2 separate regions of the Homo sapiens genome follow, and region 1 is linked to region 2. Evidence: fine-mapped expression QTL. Tissue or cell type: whole blood. Region 2 holds a variant in brackets; the other region holds the start of a gene. All regions are shown on one strand. Distances are from middle to middle.

What was found.
Region 1: FBRSL1 starts here. The variant in region 2 is fine-mapped to the expression of FBRSL1 in whole blood (GTEx, PIP 0.98). The same link has a PIP of 0.9 or more in CD4 T cells.

The regions. Positions count from the first base shown.
Region 1 is chr12:132,484,389-132,495,003 of GRCh38, reverse strand. It overlaps FBRSL1 (fibrosin like 1), which reads right to left and starts at 4,853. Exons shown (of 19, transcript NM_001367871.1): 1 at 4,143-4,853. The coding sequence starts at 4,433. RefSeq lists enhancers at 2,419-2,488, 3,202-3,765, 5,763-5,892 and silencers at 4,923-5,372, 5,503-5,572.
Region 2 is chr12:132,508,339-132,516,338 of GRCh38, reverse strand. FBRSL1 (fibrosin like 1) reads right to left here. Exons shown (of 19, transcript NM_001367871.1): 2 at 7,989-8,000. Among named protein-coding and RNA genes, the nearest start is that of FBRSL1, 22 kb to the right of the region's middle. The variant G/A (reference allele first, on the strand shown) is at 4,555.

The DNA of each region.
Region 1 (10,615 bases), 23 kb after region 2:
CCCACAGACAGCCCTGGGAGGCCGGGGGCCGCACACGATCAGTAGCCTGGGGTTTCTTAAGCACAACCGTCTGTGCAGGTTCAGCAGCATTTTGGGTGCATGTCCTGTGGTTTATGCTGAGCAGAGAATGTGGAAGCACAGGCGTTAGAGGAGACCGCTGGCCACCGAGCCAGGAGGCTGGGTGCTTTCCTTCCGCCTTTATTCCTGGGACACACGTGGACCTTCTGCGTGGCCCGTGTGCCAGTCAGGGAACAGCTCAAGCTTCAGCACGCACCTTCTTATGGAGCTTGACGTGTGGACCAAGTGAAAGTCACCAGGTGAAAGTGATTTGCTGTTTGAAAAATGCAAATTAACCAAAAATCACAGACACCAAACCAGAATGGTGGTGTCCGCCTGGAGCTAGTGGCCAATGTGCTCCTGGGCACCCTGCCACCTCCCTGTGGCCCAGGCGCAGCCCAGAGCACCATGGCCAGCGTCACTGGGGCCGAGCGGCCAGCATGTGGGAGTGGGCGGTGCAGCCCACTGGGCTAAGCAGGCCTGGCCTATCTCCCAGGAGACACAGGGACCGGCACAACCTGTTCTGTGGCCTGAGGCCAGATAAGGATGGCCTTTGCTATGTGGGAAGATGGGGTCTGACACAGCCCTGGATACACCTCTCAGACCCCAGTCTTCTTGGGAGGACCCCAGGCAGAGAACAGCAGCACTGACCAGGCACGTATGGCCACAGCACTGCTCCAGGGGTAGGGGGCTTCCAGTGTCCTCTGGTCAGTACAACCAGGGGACAGAGTTGTCACAGGAAACAAAAGGGACAGCAAGAGCCACGTTCCCAAGCACCCAGAGTTCCCGGTCAGAACAAGAGCAGGGGAGAGGCCAGCGGGGCTTCCTCAGGCCTCCTGTCCCCACATACCACGGCCCCTGGTTACAGAGTAGAAAGTCAAGCGGGGGCTGGCTCAGGTCTGCCGCGCCGCCCCACCCACCCCAGCACACCCAGCCCAGCACGCCCCTCTGCAGGTCCTCAGCCCTGCCACAGGGCTCCCATCTCTATGGGCAGTTAATCATTAATGCTGTCTCCAGGGCTGCAGGCACACCCTGAGCCAGGCCAGACCCTGGCCCTCCTCAGCCCACAACCACCACCACCACCATTTAGGGAGTGCCTGCTGTGTTCACAGCACACACAGGCCCAGGACAAGCGGGGACTCCTCCTCCCCTACAGGAGCACATATAAATGTGCAGATGCTGGGGGCCTGCCCCGGGCACAGAACGGCCTATGTGTCCCACCCAGGGTACACAAAGGGGGCGGGGGCCTGCCCCGGGCACAGAACAGCCTGTGTGTCCCATCCAGGGCACAGAAAAGGGGCAGGGACCTGCCGGGGGCACAAAACAGGTACAGAGACCTGCCCCGGGCACAGGGCAAGGGGTGCCTGTTCAGACAGGCGGAGAGGGTGGTCTGCCTGGGGTCAGAAGGGGCTGCGAGTGGGGGTCTGCCCCAGGGGCCAGGGCTGGGGCCGAGAGTTGGTCCCAGTGTGTGTGGGGTCTGGGGTGAGGTAACAGGACTCCTGCAGGCAGGCTGCACCTCCCCGGCAAGTCTACACCTGTGTTTGGTTGTTTATACCACTGCAGTGTCCCGCGGGCACAAGCCAGCCTCTGGGGTTACAAGGGCTTCCTCCAACTCCTGAGCGTCCCATCCTCCAGCATCCCAGAGTAGGAAGAGCCCTCAAGACGCGGGTGGGGGCAGAGGGACTGTGAGCAAAGGCGGCAGAGCCAAGGGCAGGCTGTGCCTCTGGGCTGGGTCCTGGTGGCCACATCTCCCTCGGTGTCCCGTGTGGGTGGCCTCGCAGGGCAGCGCCCGCTCACTCTAAGGCCGGACAGGCGTGGCACCCAGTGCTCCTTGCTCTTGCTCTGCCTCAATGGGGAGCCTCAAGGTCCCCATCTGTGGAATGGGGGCATCCAGCCCTCCTCGTGGGTCATTTGAGGAGTAAATGAGTTGATGTCTGTGAAAGGCAGCTCAGAACACTGCCTGATGGAGAGAATGCTTACTGAACCAGTCACTACTATTGATATAATTATGAATTATCTGAACTTTGGGGAAAAACCACCATACTTTGGCAAAAAATGTAGACAACCAAGAGACACGTATGGGATGATCACGAGGTTATGACTTGTGCAGAAGCCCCGTACTTTCCCAGGCAGGCTCCGAAGGGCAGAGGAAGGGACATGAAACCACCCTGGGGTGCTGTGGCTGTGTTAACGCCACGCAGCAGCAGACTTGTCTCACTATGACCTGAGGGGCCAGCTGGTCTAAGCCGAAGTCACCAAAACCCACTGAACCCACTGCCTGCAGGCTGGGGGCACGTGACCCTGCCAGAGCAGGTGGACAGCCAGTCAGAGCCGCTGCGGGCAAAACACGTGGGCCTGGGATTGGCCCTGGATCTCCTGAGTACAGTTCATCTCCTCACTCAGATTCCTGACACACGCATCTGGGGCACTTTCTACACATCGAGCTCTTCCCGGCACCAGACCCCATAGGAGACACACAGGACAGCACAGTGTCTGCTCTCTTTCAGCTTACAAGTTCTTGTGGGAGACGAAAATGGAGAGCAAAGACATTCTAAAACAGCTTTGCAGAGTGGGGATGACAAAAAGAAGGTGGGCAACGTCGACGGGGGTGGGGGGCACCACTTCAGAGGAGTCTGAGGTGACGTTTTTGCAAAGACACAATGGCACCAAACATAAAGCAGACAGAGAACGGCAGGGTACAAGGGCTGACCCGCTCGGAGCAGTGAGGAAGCCGCGGTTAGGGACCCAGGAGGTGCAGGTGGGTGGCGACAGCTCTGGAAAGTGGGCATCCTCGTGGTCTCAGCTGCAGTGCAGGAGCCGAGCGCAGGGCCTGGCTTGCAGTATTGCTCAGTACACGTACAGTCTGTGTCATTATCACCACTGAGAGGGCAGAAGACAGCCCCAGGGCCATCCCGTCCCAGCACAGAGCAATGGCGTGTGCCAGCCCTGGAGCCATCTAATAATGTGCAGGACAGAGGATGGCCAGCCTGTGTGATGAGCCTGGCCACCACCCACCCCGTCCTGGGCCCACAGGAGCCCCAGCTCTGTCCGTGCACTTGGGACACGAAGCCCCAGCTCTGACTGTGCACTCGGGACACGATGCGGCACCTGTTCTGGGGCCACTTCCCTGGCCACCGGCCCTGACCCAAGGCTCTCTACAGTCCCCAGAGTTTGGATGAGAACTTGAAGAGGACTTGCTGCTTCAGGGGCCTGCAGTAGGCATCTCCCCTTTTCCCAAAGCTCAGCTTCTGAGACTGGGGGATCCCAGGCCATGGGCTCCCAAGCCCCTGGAAAAGTGAGAGGGGTTGGAAATGGGGTGATTCTGGGAGTCAAAGTCCAGCAGATGAGGGTCCCCCAAAGTAAGTGCTGCACGGGGCACACCTCGCTGGGCGGGTCTCGGCCCTGGTGCAGGGCAACTTGCTAGCATTCCTGCCCATGCCAGTCCTGGGGAGACAGCGCCTGCCCCAACTCTCAGACAGCATTTAATTTCCTTCTCTGCTCAGCTGAGTTCATGTAAGAGGAGCAGTATTTGCTCAGCAAATACTGTCCGTCAGCCAGACAAGCAATATTTTTGGCCAATCTATTAACCATGCAGCAGGCAGCAGTCACCAAGAGGGGTCTTGAGATTAACCCTCCTTCTCCCCTTCTCAGCAGAGCCCTCGAAGGGAGGAGGGAACGGGATGGCCCGCGGAGTATCCATTTTATCACCACCTCCCTAAGATCCAGCACTGCTCCCTAGCACGTCCTGAACCAGGCAGAGCGATATGCTGGCCACAGAAACACAACTGATAAAAGGCCGACGGTGCTGTCAGACAGCCCCCAATTTCGAAGCGTAGATTTTTTTGCCTCTGCAACTTAAAACGTCCCCAAACCCACCCGACGCTGCTGGGTCTTCCAGATGCGACGGTCTGGGCGAGCGGTGGGCACCCAGGGTCCCTGGAACGGGTACCAAGTGGCCGGGGCTTCCCTCAGGGCTGCCCACGGCGCGGGCGGTCGCAAGCCCAGGGGTCCCGGGATCGCCCGACGCGTCAACTCCGGGCCCCGTTCTCGCCTCAACGCCTGCGAAGCCGCACCCGTCCACCTACCTCCAGGGCCTCCAGGGTGCTGAAGCTGGCGATGGCGAAGCCGTCGATGACCTCCTCCTCCTGCGAGCTGGACTCGCGGCGGCGGCGGCGCGGGGGACGCGCGGTGCGGGGCGCGGGGGCGGCGCCTCGGGGGGGCGCGCCGCGGAGGCCCGCGTTCTCCTTGCCGGGGCTGGGCTCGGGCTCGTCGCCCGACGACGGACTCTGGGCGCGGGCGTCGCGGGCGGCCTCCCGGCGCCGGCCACGGTCCCGCTGCGCGCGCGAGCGCCGGCTCGGGCGGACCTTGGCCTCCATGGCCGCGCGTGCGCCCCGTCGGGCCGGTGACCTTGACGCCCCGCGCCTGGCTCGCAGCAGGCGGGCTCCCTCGGCTACGCGGCGCCGCCGGGCTGAGTGTGCGCCGCGCGGGCTCGGGCCCTGGGCGGCGGCGGGCGGCGGGCCGGGCCGGGCATGCCGGGCGCGGGGGGCGGCTCAGCCCCGGGCCCGGCGCGGCCTGGGACCCCCGGCGCGGGCGGCTGGGCGCATCGGCGGGGGCGGGCCCGGCGCTCAGCGGCCCTCGGCCGCCCCCCCGGGGGCGCGCCCCATGCGCGCGGCGCGGCGATCGGGCCGAGCGGGCGGGGCCGGGCGGGCGCGGCAGGCGGCAGGCGGGAGGCGGCCGGGCTCCTGGGCACCGGGCTCGTGAGGCGGCGGCGGCGCCCCGAACAGATAACAACTGACGCACTTCCGCCCGGCTGCGCTCGCCAGAGGAAGTGAGGGCCGCCGCGGGCGCCCGCGCGCCCCGCCCCGACCACGCCCCTGCCCCGCCCCGCTCATAAGGCTCCGCCCCCACCCCGCACACGCGGCCCGCCCCGCTCACAAGGCTCCGGCCCCTCCCCGCCCCATTCACGCAGGCCCCGCCCCCCGCAGGCTCCGCCCCCTCCCCGACCCGCTCACGCAGGCCCCGGCCCCGCCCCTCCCGGGCGCTCCCGCTAATTCAGGCCCCGCCCCACCCGCAGGTGCCCGCCCTTCGACCTCGCCCCCTAGCCGCGCCCCTCCCCGGCGCCCCGACCTCCGCTGCAGCCGGCGGTGATCCGCTCGGCTCCTTCCTGGGAGGGCGCTGGGATGCCGCGGCCCCTCCGTGGGCACCTGCGGGCGGCGCTCTCCAAGCGGGAGGCGGGGGCAGCGCCGCCCTCCTCTGCGGGACTGGGGTCCCCGGCCGCGGGCGGCTTCCGAGGAGGACGAGGGGCCTCCGGTCTCGCGGAACCGAAGTCCTGCCCTCGGCGAGCGTGGAAGGGACGGGGAAGGGGCGGGGAGGACCGGGGGAGGGTCCTCGGCCAGGCGGTGCCCCCTCCCCGCGTCCCCGCGGACCCTCCCAGGCCTCCTAGGATGCGGGAGGGGTCTGTCCGCGTCCCCGCCCCGCGCCACGTGCCCCCAAGTCCCACAAGAAGGCGGCTCCCGCCACCGAGACCCCCGGGAACGCGCCCAGCGAGGCGGGGGCTGCTGCCAGACACGGAGCGCAGTGTGGAGGGCGGCGCGGGCAGGAAGCGCACGGAGGCGGCTGCGGTTGCGAGGCAGGCGCGGGGCGAACTTCCTCCTCCACCCCCAGGACAGGCCGAGCTCGGAGGGGCCCGCCTGGTGGGGTTTTCTGAGCCCAGGGGCCCCTTGCGCGTGGGCACTGGAGTCATTGATTCATGCAGCGCGTATTTGCCAGATGCCTCCTGTGTCCAGGCTCTGTTGGTGACCCCGCAGCGGCTGAGATAGACTACCCTCTTAGAAGTGGGAGAGAGACCCTGAACACAGGGCCAAATAGAATATCAGCCAAGGATAATCTGAAGAAAATCGAACGGGGAGGTGTCACAGAGAGTGGGCATTGGGTGGTCCAGAGGGCCTCCCCGAGGAGTGACGACTCCGAGCCCCAGCAGTCATGGGCACCCTGTTTCAGGTCGGGGCTACACCCCTGCACAGGCCCTCGGAGAAGAATGGTGGTTTGCTGGAGGGCGGAGGGGAGGGTGCCCAAGACAGTGGTGGGACCCTGCCCTCGGTTGCCCTTAGTGGGAACGGGTCCTCGCCCACTCTGCGGGGTCCACTTTACCCTGCCTCTGGGAGAGCCTACTGGCGGCCTCTTGTGCAGGGCAGGAAGGGTGTGGTCCAGGCACCACTGGCTGTTTGCTGGGCTGAGGCAGTTGGGAAAGTAGCTCACTGGGGTGGGGGGACTTCCTGTTCACCCAGCCTCCTCCAGTCCACCCAGCCCGCTCTCTGGTTCCCTGTCAAAGCCTCCCCAGGGTGGGGGCAGGGTCCCCCTCCCCCTCTTCCCATTCCGGGTTTTGTTAAACCGTGGTTTCACCCTCCAGCATCCTCCCTTTTGATTTTTAAAAGCCTCATTAGGAAGACAGAAACGGACCCCGAGTAGTTTCTCCATGCACGCCTGCTCCCGAATTCCCCTCCCTGGACAGAAGGCCAGGAAATGTGGGCGAGGGTCACCCAGGTGGCATTTGAGGCTCTTGTTTAAATACAGGCCTCTTCCCAAGTAGCCTGGGAGTCCTCACCTGTTCCCCGAGGCTCCCAGAGGCCATCCCACCCTAGGCTGGGCCCAGAGGTCAGTCAGACTGCAAGGGGCATCCTGTGGGCACCCCCTCCCCCCCAGAAGAATTGCTTGGGAAGGTCTGAGGTTTTGGATTTGAAGTTTCTTTCTCTTTTTCTTTTTCTTTTTTTTTTTTTGAGACAGATCTCACTTTGTCACCCAGACTGGAGTGCAGTGGCGTGATCTTGGCTCACTGCAGCCTCCGTCTCCCGGGTTCAAGCCATTCTCTTGTCTCAGCCTCCCGAGTACCCAGGACTACAGGCCTATGCCACCATGTCTGACTAATGTTTTGTATTTTTAGTAGAGATGGGGTTTCGCCATGTTGGCCAAGCTAGTCTCGAACTCCTGACCTCAGGTGATCTACCCGCCTCAGCTTTCCAAAGTGCTGGGATTACAGGCGTGAACCACTGTGCCCAGCCTGAAGTTTCTGATTATAGACATACACTGTTTGTTTATCTGATCTCCGAAGATGTTCAGATGTGTGACCCCAGTGAAGGGCAGGGGCTCTGTAGACCTCCTCAGGGGCTTCCTTTTTGGGCTCCCCCCCGGGTTTCCCTGGCTGTCCTGGGGAAGGCGTCCCCAGGTGCCTTCTCTCCTTTGATCCATTTCCAGGTGTCCAGATGGCCAACCAGGGACCAGCCGCCATCTCTGGAGTTCTGGGCTCAAGTGCTCCCCAGGGACCAGCCGCCGATGCTGGAGTTCTGGGCTCAGGTGCTCCCCAGGGACCAGCCGCCGTCTCTGGAGTTCTGGGCTCAGGTGCTCCCCAGGGAGGGCTTGCTTTGGGAACCTTCTCTTACAGAAGAAAGCAGCTGGGCTACGTGCTGGATGGGAAGCCCTTGGGAGGGATGGTGGTTCTGGGGGTGGTTCTGGGGGTGGTTTCTGACAGATGCGTACTTGCCTGCTTGCGGACCGGGCTGTGTGTCTCCGGGAGCACGCATCACAGTGACCGGACATCCCACCCAGGACTCCGAACCTCCCTGGGGCTTGCCAGGGCCCTGGGCAGAGCTTGCAGCACGAACCCCACCCCCCACACTCCCACTGACTTCTTGGTGTGGTGCAGGTTGGACCTCCTGTGCTTGTTTGGTTTTTCAGTTTGTGTGCTCACACATCTGCCCTCTCTTGCCCCGGGCAGGATGGGGTGCTTTGGAAGGTAGAGACTGCAGCGGTTAGGAGACCTCCAGGCCAGTGGCCTGCAGAGCTCGGAAGTGGAGGGAATGGCTGGGTTGTCCGGACGGTGGCCGCCAGCCACGAGTGGCTCAAGCCTCTGCAGTGTGGCAAGTGCAGCTGAAGAACTGGATTATACATTTTACTTACAGACTTTAATCTAAAATATAATAGCCTGTGGGGCTGGTGGCTACCATGCTGGACAGGGAAGTTCTAGACCGGCTCGCCTGGGCCCCAGCCTCAGCTGTGCCACCCACTTAGAATATTTTGGGCAAATGATTTAACGTGCTTCCATCGTCCCGTCTATAAAGTGGGGGTGGCGTGGCGATGAGGCGTCCCGCCGTCGGGGGTGTGAAAGCCCCTGGGTGTGTGTGAATCGGTGTGTGAGTCAATGGAGGCCTCAGACCCACGACGGGAGGGAGGTGTGAGCACACACAGCTGAGCCCACCCCAGGGTTCCCCACCCCTCACGTCTGAGGTTCTCTGGGGCTGGTCGGGGACCACACTCTGGGAACCATGGGTTTGAATGCACCACAGTCAGGGCCCTGGTACAATCAGGGCCGTAGGTGGGTGCTCATCAAGCCCTCCAGCCCCTCCCCACCCTCTTCCCCAGCTCTTGCCAGCAAAACCCCTTTTCTCTCCACTCTGCTGGAGGCCCACAGCTCCTGCCCACAACTCCTTCCCAGCCCCTAGGGCTCAGCTCTCTGGCCCCACCACCAGCCCAGGTCCCTTTCCTGCTCACGCCACACCCCTTAGCTCTCATCCTTCCAACCAGCCCGGGTCCCTTTCCTGCTCACGTCACACCCCTTAGCTCTCATCCTTCCAACCCGCCCGGGTCAGAGCCCTGAGTGGTGCTATGAGCATCGGTGGGCTCCGGGATGGCACATCAGCTCCTCCATCGTAGCCACTGGCCTTTGCTTTAGAGAGTCCTTCCCTGCCATCTGTAAGGCTCTGTGCAAAGTTAATTGATGTGAAATTGTATTCAAAATTCAATTTGGGGCAACGGATCCAAATTAGGCTCTATAAATCAGCTAAGCCATTTGCCCTTTGGGTTTCAAACTTGCCTGTGGGGTGACAGCCAAAAAGTAGAAAGTATGTTCCATTTCTTGCAGCCCCCAGCCCCATCTGTGAGCCGGCTGTCAGCTCCAGCCCTCCGCATGCACCCCTCTTCCTTCCCGTAATGGCACCTCAGTGTATTTTGGATGCATAGTCTGCTCTTGTGGGTGCCGTCTGGTGACACAGCAGGTCCTAAGGCCCCATGCTCCCCTAGAAAAGGAACAAAGGAACGTCAGTCAGCTCTTGCTTGGAGAACGCTGTGTAACAAACAGCCCCTGGGCCCTCAGTGACAATGCCTTGCTCACAGGGTTGCAGGGTGACAAGAGGGGCTTTGCTTCTTCATTTGGACTTTGGTTAGGCCCAGCTATAATCCACTGGCCTCTTTCTGTGGGATGCAGGCGTTCATTCTCCCTCAGTGGCTCAGGAGGCTGAGCAGAGCCATATAAACCTAGGAGAAGCCCGTGCTTGAAGCCTCATGTTGTGTCTGTCAAGGAAGTTTCAAGGCTAGGACCAGCCTCCACGGGGCAGAGAAGTCGTGCTTTCTGCTCTGGTGGGGTGTGATGGCTCAGTTTGTCATGCAGGTGACCCAGGTGACACCAGTCAGGTGGCCTCTTCCTGGCATTGCAGTTAGAATGTGCCTTGAGCCACATGTCAAGGCAATTGAGTGTTTGGAGTCCTCAACGTGCCCCCTTCCAGTCATCCTGCTCCTGAGGATGTGCTGTTGCCTGGTTCCGAGCCTGCTGCAGCTCTGCGGGCCGCCCCCTCCCTGTTCACCCAGGGGAGCAGGCGTGTTCCCTCCGCAGGGGCTTGAGACCTGCCGTCCTTTCCCCTGGACCCTCCCTCTCCCCCAAGCCCTAACCCAATGCCACTCCTTCCTGAGGCTGATGGTGGCTTTGCGTGAGGTGGGCCCTGCTGAGCAGCAGAGAATTTCTTAGAATTTTCATCGCCAGATGGCTCTGGGTTAGGGCTGACCACAGAAAACCAGCAGGCATGTTGGAAAGCAGGAGTGGAATGCAGAAGGCAGAGGGAGCCACACGGAGCAGCCAGGTTACACTCCTGCCGTCGTGTGACTGCTGCAGACCCCCTGTCCCCGCACCTCAGCGGGCTTGGGCCGTTCCAGGCCTGCAGCACCGTGGGCTCCAGCCACCTCCTGCCACTGCCCCTCCCAGTCTGTGTCAGGAGCACTGGAGTCTCCCAGTCAGTTCCTCAGGACGCTATGTCACCGTCATGATGTCCGTGAGCTCCCATGCGCCTGGCTCTCCCCGTTACCACACTTACCTTTCTCTCCTGGCAGCCACTCCCTGGCTCTCCTTGGAGAGTGTTTCAGCTGGCCATGCTCCGTGTGCAGTGTGAGAGTGCACAAGCTTGCACAGGTGCTCACACCAGAAAGGGACGTTGCAGGTTGGGAGGAGGGTCCTTGTGCCAGGCCCTGGCCCCCGAGTCTGCCCCTTGCAGTGGGGTGCCCAGCCTGGTGTGGGGTCAGGCTGTGGGAAGGAGGAGAGGCCAGGGACAAGCAGCCGGGATTAGCTTGGGCTCTTTCCCTTGAAAGTGGCAGAAATGCAAACCCAAAGCAGCCCGTACCTGTGGGGTTCCCGACAGGCCCCGGCTTCAGGCAGGGCTGGATTCAGGCAGCAGCCCACACCCCGTGGGGTTCCCGACAGGCTCCGGCTTCAGGCAGGGCTGGATTCAGGCAGCACCCC
Region 2 (8,000 bases):
GTGGCACTTGCCTGTGATCCCAGCTACTCAGGAAGCTGAGGCAGGAGAACTGCTTGAACCCGGGAGGCAGAGCTTGCGCAACATTGTGCCACTGCACTCCAGCCTGGGTGATAGAGCAAGACTCCATCTCAAAAAAAAAAAAAAAAGACTATTCGGATTATCTATTTCATCTTGTGTCAGTTTTGTTTTCCAAGTAATTTGCCCACTTCACCTAAGCTGTTGAATTTGTTGGAATAAAATTGTCCCCATTTCACCTTTTTCGTGTCTATAGTGCCTGTAATGATATTTCCCCTTTTGTTCCTAATATTCATAATTTGTGTTTTCTTTTTCTGATTGATCTAGCTAGGGATTTCTCAACTTTGAAAACACCTTTTGGCATTGTTCATTTCCTCTATTGTCTGTTTCCTACCTTATTAATTTTTTTTTTTTTTTTTTTTTTGAGACGGAGTCTCACTCTGTTGCCCAGGCTGGAGTGCAGTGGCGTGATCTCAGCTCACTGCAACCTCCACCTCCTGGGTTCAAGTGATTGGCATGCCTCAGCCTCCCAAGCAGCTGGGACTACAGGTGTGCGCCACCGTGCCTGGCTAATTTTTTGTATTTTTAGTAGAGACGGGTTTCACCATGTTGGCCAGGCTGGTCTTGAACTCCTGACCTCAAGTGATCCACCCTCCTTGGGGTCCCAAAGTGCTGGGATTACAGGCGTGAGCCACCGCACCTGGCCTGCCTCATTAATTTCTGTATTTCTGTTCTTGTCTATACTATGGCTTTCCTTTATAGGTTTACAAACCTTCCATTTTTTTTTTTTTTTGGTTTCTTAAGGTAAAACCTTAAGATTCTAGACCTTTCTTCTTTTCCCATATAAGCACAAGCTAGTTTTCCTTTAAGGATTGCTTTAGCTGCATCCCATAAATTTTGACGTAGTATTCCTTATTTTCTAGTGAAATTCAGGTCAGAGATTCAGGAGGTGGAAGCTAAGGACCTGCCTGGCTGGGTGTGCTGGGTGGGAGGACAGGGGAGTGAGGAGAGGAGAATGACTGTCAACTTCTAGCCCAGTCATCTGGGTGGTTCCAGGTTCACCCACTGAAATGGGGAAAGACAGAAGCTGGTGTGTCTGGTTTGTCTGTGCCAAGTGAGGGGTGCATCCTGGGTCTCGGCAGGACACTCTGGCCTGATGCATGAGGTCTGGCCTCAAACCATAGAGCCGATGAGGTAGAGGATGAGGAGACAGACAGCAGGCGCCTGGGAACAGCATGGGCATGAGATAAGCACTCACAGAGGGTATATTGTTCTGGACCCCCCACACCTCCCTGCTGTCAGCCTTGTGGTTATTGGGCGCAGAAGCTGCCAGTCTAAACTCAAGTGTTGTAAATGTAAAACACCTGCTGGCTTTCCCAGACTCTACAAAAAAAAGAGTAAAAAAGATGTGACAATTTTTATATAGATTACATTGTTGAAATACTATTTTCAAAGTACATGGAGTGAAACGCAATACTTCATTAAAATGAATTTTACTTATTTCTTCTTAACTCTATATGTGGCTCACATAACACTCCTATTAAACAGTGCTGCCCTAGGAGAGTCCAGGGCCCTACCCACCCCTGCTGGATGAGAAGCTGCACTCTGCCAGGTCCCAGGGTACACCAGGGAGCCCTCTAGGTCGTGTACCGGCCCTAGGAGAGGCTTCGTGCCAAATCCCTGCACCATGGCCGGGACTGTGGCTCAGCATGAAAACCCTTCTTCCTCGGAGTCCCCCCACAGCTTTGCACCGTGGCCGGGCCTGTGGCTCAGCATGGAAACCCTTCCCCCTCGGGGTCTCCCCACAGCTTTGTGAACTGCTAGGGATGTCCCCTATCACTGCAGCTTCTGGCCGGAGGAGGATGGCCGGTGGCCTCGGCCTGGTCAATGCCAGTCCAGCTCAGTCTGGTACTGCGGTCCTGGGCCACCTGGGAAGACGCCAGGGAGGCCAGAGAGATCCTGGGTCAGGCCGCAGCCCTGCTCAGATCCCTCCGAGGCCCCAGGACTCCCCCTGGACTTCTGGGCGGCCCTGGGTCTCCCTTGGGCACCTGCGGGTAGTCCTGCCTTCTGGCCTCTGAACATCCAGGTGCCCCCCCAGCCCCCCACTCATGCCCTCTGTGTCTTTGCCCTCACCACAGTCGCCCAGCATGCTATCCCAGCCTGTCTCCCCACACACGGAGGAGCCGAGCCCTGACGCGAGAACAGAGGCGGAGCTCATCGTCCTCAGTGCCCAGACAAGGATCCCGAATGAGCAAACGGGGAAGGCCCAGGAGGTGGTGTTTCCAACACGCAGGGCAGGGCCTGGGGGAGGGACTGTGGCTATTCACCTGCAGTGAGGGGTCCAGAGAGACGGGGCCCTCGGACGAGGGTCTGCAGGCAGATGCCCACACACCAGGCGTGGATGCTGGGCCAGGTGCCGGGAGCCCACCCACGCTCACACCCCTCCCTCCCTGGGGGCTGCTCAGCGATGGCTCATGGACTTGGCCTGACCTGGGGAGGACCCAAGGGCCTTAGAGCTCCAGGCCCCTCGTGGGGTTGGCCCCACCGCCACAGTCTCAGTGTCACCCATCTTCCAGGAATCCACCCCGACCTCCCCTTCTCCTCCCCCAACAACAAACCAACCACTGCCCTCGTCTGCCGTGGGCTCTGCAGGAACACGCCTCGGCCTCTCCCAGAAGGCTCACGCCCTCCCCATAACCCCTTCTGCAGATGGGAGGGGACCAGCCTGCCTGTGCCAACAACAACAAGGTGGGCAGAGGCCCCCACAGAGGTGACCAGAGGGCTGATGGTCACTAAAGCACTGCACGCAGGCCCCAGTCTCCAGAGGGGTTCCTGAGGCAGCAACAGGGTCTCTGTAGTCGGGCAGCGGGCAGCCTCCCCCAGATCCCCACTGTCACCCCCCGGAAGACACCTCCATCCTCAACCTTCAGGCTGGGCTGCCCCCACCCCCTCTACAGCAGCCAGGACACAAGCCCATCTTCCTGGGCAGGCGCAGCCCCACTGAGTACCAACCCCTTCCAGAAACAAGGGAACAAGCCATGTTCCAACCAGGCCTCAGGCTCCAATCTGCTGCCTGTGATGGGAGCCAAATCCCACTTGCCGGAGGCCTCGCAGGCCCACAGCTGCATCTTCTGGTCAGCAAAGTGAGTCATAAAAATTAGAATTGACCACCAACATTTCAACATTGCCAAATCCAGAGAAACCTGGATTCCCAGCTCTTCAGAAACATCAAAGATCTGGCCACACGAAATCTGCATTTCCCAGGGCGACGCCTGGCAGCAGTGTCCCCACCAGGGCGCGGGCCCCAGGACACAACATGGATGTCCAGCACCATAGCGCCCTGGTGTCTCTGCCCTCCCCATGGCGGCACCCCGACCGCAAGCCAGTGCAGACAGTGGGTTCGAGCTGGAGGCTGCAGGGTCATGGCCAGGCCTCGAGAGCCCCTCTGGGTCCTGAATGTTTCCTCCACGGGTGTCCTCTGCACCCCCAGCTGTTGGCCACAGGGACCCAGGCTGCAGTTTCCAGCTCTCCTCAGCCCTCCCTGGCAGCCTGGCCTTCCCCATTAAGGGGCAGCCAAGTGCCACTGCTCAGCTCCAGCATGGATGGCCCCTCCCCACTCCCTCAGCCCGTTCAGGCCTGCCCCAGACATGGCTCTACTCACTCGGCCCCCTCTGTACTCACAGGAGCCCGGGGGTAGGGGCAGGGGCCTGAAAGTGGAAAGAGGGCAGGAGACTGTTTAAATCATCACTGTTCCCCACGCCTGACAACAGGGACGTCTGAAGGCAACTTCAGCCCCTCTGCGGGGCAATGGCTTGTGTGGGTGACTCTGAGATGGCACCGCCCTCCAAGCCCGCACCCCAAGTGTGCCAGGTCCAGCCTGGAGCTCAGCCAGGGCGCTGCAGCCAGGACTCGGCCCCTCCATGCCCCGGCCTTCCGTGAGCAGAACACAAGCACCTGACAGGCTGTGCAGAGGATGCTGGGCTGAACCATGCTCCCTCACGCGTGCCCAGGCCATGCAGAGGACTCTGAGCTGAACCACCCTCCCTCACCAGTCCCCAGGACACTGATCCCGGGGATGGGTGCCCCCCAGGCATGAGCCGAGAGGGGGGTCTCGACCCCTGTCACACTGGCCCACACAGTAGCCTTGCGGTGGGGGGATCTGGAGGCCGGTGCCCCCATGCTGAGCACAGTACAAACCCCCATTCCAGGCCTCAGATGGGTGGGCAGGAAGGTCAGGAACAGATGCTCCAGGTCTCCCCTCTGTTCGGTCAGAGTGCAATGAATCCCGAGCCAAGCCCAGCACAAAAGCCCTTTGTGGGAATAAATCACGTAAGACACATGCTCGTCTGTTTAAATTACAAACGCTGATGCTGTTATAAAAAATAGTGGCACGGCACTTTTTATTTTCTTTAATCAGAAAAATAAGCCCTGCGCTTCTGGGATGGAGGCCCCAGGTGAGCACCGGAGGAAGGGGCCCGGGTGGGTGGGGAGCGAGGGGGCCCGGAGGCCAAAGCAGATGCTGCACCAGAGGCTGGTCAG[G/A]ACCCGGGAGGGCCTGCGGGGGTGGGGTCCTCATGAGCAAGTGCGGGGTGCTGGAGGTCAGCAGCTGCCTGGCCTGGGAGCCAGGGACACCCATCCCCTTCCTGACACCTGAGGCAGCCCAGCTGGGCAAGACCAGGCCTGCAGGACCAGAGCCTCCTGTCACGTGGCGCAGGGGTCCAGGTGGTCAACGCTGCTCTCTGGAGGACCACTGGTTAGAGCCTGCCCAGCTCCCCTGAGGTCTGGAGACAGTCAAAGCCCCCCCAAACACCCCCTCCCTTTTGGGCGAGTGGCGTGCCTTGGACTCCAGAAGACTCGAGTGGGGCTGCCTTGAGACCAGGTCCTGAGGGGGTGGCAACACCTGACCACAGGTGGGGGCCGTGGAAGGGGCAGGGATGGGCCCAGGGGTAGCCTTGTAGTGTGAGGTGTGCCCGACCACATGTAGGTCAACAGCCAGACGGGACGCTGCAGGGGACTGTGGGGAAGCCGGGAGAAGGCGCTGCCCACCCTGTGGGGTCCCCCTCGCCTGGAGACCCTGCAGGCAACCCTTCAGTGCATGCCCACGGGGGTGGTGGAGGCAGAGTCCTGAGAGGTGGGGGTGGGAGCCTCCGGGTCCCCTGCAGGTCCTGACCCACCAGATGGGCCCATGTGCCCCCTGTAGCTTGGGGGCCCTGGAGGTGGACACCAGCACCTCCTGACTACCAGGGGGAGGGCCTGGACTGAAACCCACACCTTCACCATTCGCCACTGGGCCACTCTGCAGGAACTGCAGCACCCCACAGATCCTTCATGCCCAGCACGCCACTCACTCTCACACCCTCTCGCACACATGCACACACAGCACGCACACACCAGGCTCACGCGCTCCGCACAGGTGGCACGCCAGGGGCAAGCGTGCACGTAGACTCAGAGATGCAAGGACAGTATTGGCAATTCAGAGGCACAGAAAGACGCTGAGGGGCCCCCAGCAAGGTCCCCGCCCTCAGGGGCTGTGTTCCCCTCCCAGGGCACGCACACCACAGGCAGCAACGCGGGTGGGGGCACTGTGACGCCAGTGGGGGGAGAGGGAGCATGGCGGGGCGGCAGGCAGACGCGGGTTCATCTCTCTTCCTGGTGTGGTGAGCCTCAGCCTGATCGTGGCACTGTAGGGGCTCCCGCCTCTGGCCGAGCCTCAATTTCCAACGACAAACAGCTCAGCCCTGTCTAGACAAGGCCTCAGGCTAGTCCGGCAAAGCATCTCCAGCCCGAAGGGCAATGCGGCCTTGGCCCTTGGGGCCCTGCCAGGGTGCAGATCACACTGGAGTGGGCTGGAAAACCCATATGGGGAGGTGCCTGCAGGCATCAGGCTCCAGGGCTCACAGATGGGGCCTGACGGGCCATCCCGGGGGCACAGGATCGGGTCCACCGGGACCGCAGGGGCCGGCAGGGATGGCCCAGGGCCAGGAGCGAGAGCCGGGGCTGACGGGCCGGCACCAGATCCAATAGGGACCGCCGCGGCTGGCACAGGAGCCCCAGGAGAGGCCGGCAGGGTGGGCCCGGCTGCCCCAGGAGTGAAGGGCGATCGGGAATGGGGAGCAACGGCTGGGGTTTGCAGGGCTTGTTGGGGCCCATGAGCGGCCGCAGGGGCTGGCAGGGCTGCTCTGGGCCCATGAGCGGCCGCTTGGGTGGGCAGGGCTGCTCCGGGCCCATGAGCGGCTGCTTCTGCTGCCTCGGCCGTCCCGGGCCCAGGAGTGAAGGCGTGAGTGGGCCGGGCTGCTCTGGGGCTTCCACTAACCGCTGGGGCTGCCTGGGGCGCAGCAGCGACCGCCGGGGGCGGCTGGGCTGGCCCAGCAGGGACCTTCGGGGCTGGCCGTACTGACACGGGGCTAGGAAGGCCCGCCGGGGGCAGCAGCACTGTCCTGGGAGGAAGCTGGCGGGCCGTCGGCGTGGTCGGAGGGTGAGGAGTGGCCGCGGGGGCTGGTACCGCTGGCACTGGGCTAGCAGCGACCACAGGGGCCGGCTGCGCTGTCCTGAGGATGCCCTACCGGGCTGGCCACAGTGACACGGGCTGGCCCACGGCCGCAGGGGTCGGCAGCGGTGCCACAGGGTCAGCAGGGACCGCAGGCGCCTGCAGCGGTGCCTTGGGGCCAGGAGGAACCGCAGGCGCCGGCAGTAGAGGCAGGGGACCAGGAGGGACCGTGGGGCCAGGAGGGACCGCAGGCGCCGGCAGTGGTGACACGGGGTCAGCAGGGACCGCAGGCGCCTGCAGCACTGCCTGGGGCCTGGGAGTGCCCAATGCGGCCGGCAGGGCTGGGCCGGGCGTGACCGCTGGGGCTGGCAGAGCTGATCTGGGGATGGAAGGAGCCGCTGGGGCCGGCAGGGCTGACCGGGGCCCAGAAGTGACCGCCGGGGCTGGCAGGGCTGTTTCAGGCCCAGAAGTGACCGCTGGGGCCAGCTGCGCTGACCCAGGAGTGGCCGCTGGGAGGGCTGGCAGGGCTGCCCAGGGTCCGGGAGTGCCGACGGGGCTGGGAGGGACCCCTGGGGCTGGCTGGACTGGCTGGGCTGGAGCTGTTGCTGGCGCTGGGCCGGGCCGTTCTGGTCCCAGTGGCTGGCTGGGAGCGGCCCCCCTTCTGGGGAGCACACCTGCATGGAAGAAAGAGCACGTGTCCACCTGGGCAGGTGTCACCGCCCGCGGAACCCCCGTCCAGCCCGGGCCCAGGAGGCATGCTGCCCTTCTCCAGCAGCCCAATTCCCAAGGGGGCCGAGGAGAGCCGAGGACACCGCGCAGAGCCCCACCCTGGAAGGAAGGCGCACACCAGCGGACCCCCGCGGAGGAAGCAGCTGCAGGCTGAGCTGCACCCAGGACAGAGCCCCACGCGCTGGGGAAGCCCCCACCTGCTCTGACAGCCCCTCCTGGGCAGGAGGCCCCTGGGCAGGGCAGGCAGAGCCCTGTTCCCAGCTGGGCCACGCACCTGACCACTGACCACAGTCACGTGCCTGCAGCCACTGCCGGGACCAAGTATTCCCTTCCCCACGCCGCACACGTGAGCGGATGGCGCTGCGTGTGGACAGGACAGCCCTCGGCAATGAGCCTGGACCCCCTCCTTATAGACACTCTGGACACCTGTAGTCGGCGGAGCCTGATGGACACGGCAGGGAAACGGGGCCGGCCTATCAGCTTGGCGCCCCAGCCCGGAACGCGCGCCTTGCTGCCCCAGACAGGCACCTCTCCTGCTGTGGCCCTGGGCACGTCACGGCCCCTCCGTGACCCAGCCGGCTCCTGCCTCTGCTAGGCCCCAGCCCTGTCCACGTGTCCTGCACCCCAAGCCTGACAACGATGGGCGCGCTGCCAGGCAGGCCCGGGGGCCACGTGGCGTGGTGTCCAGGTGCTGGCATGGCCCTGGGGCGGTGAGCACTGACCCGCCGCAGAGCTTCCGGTCGGGGAGGGACCTGCTCACCTGCTTGGAGGG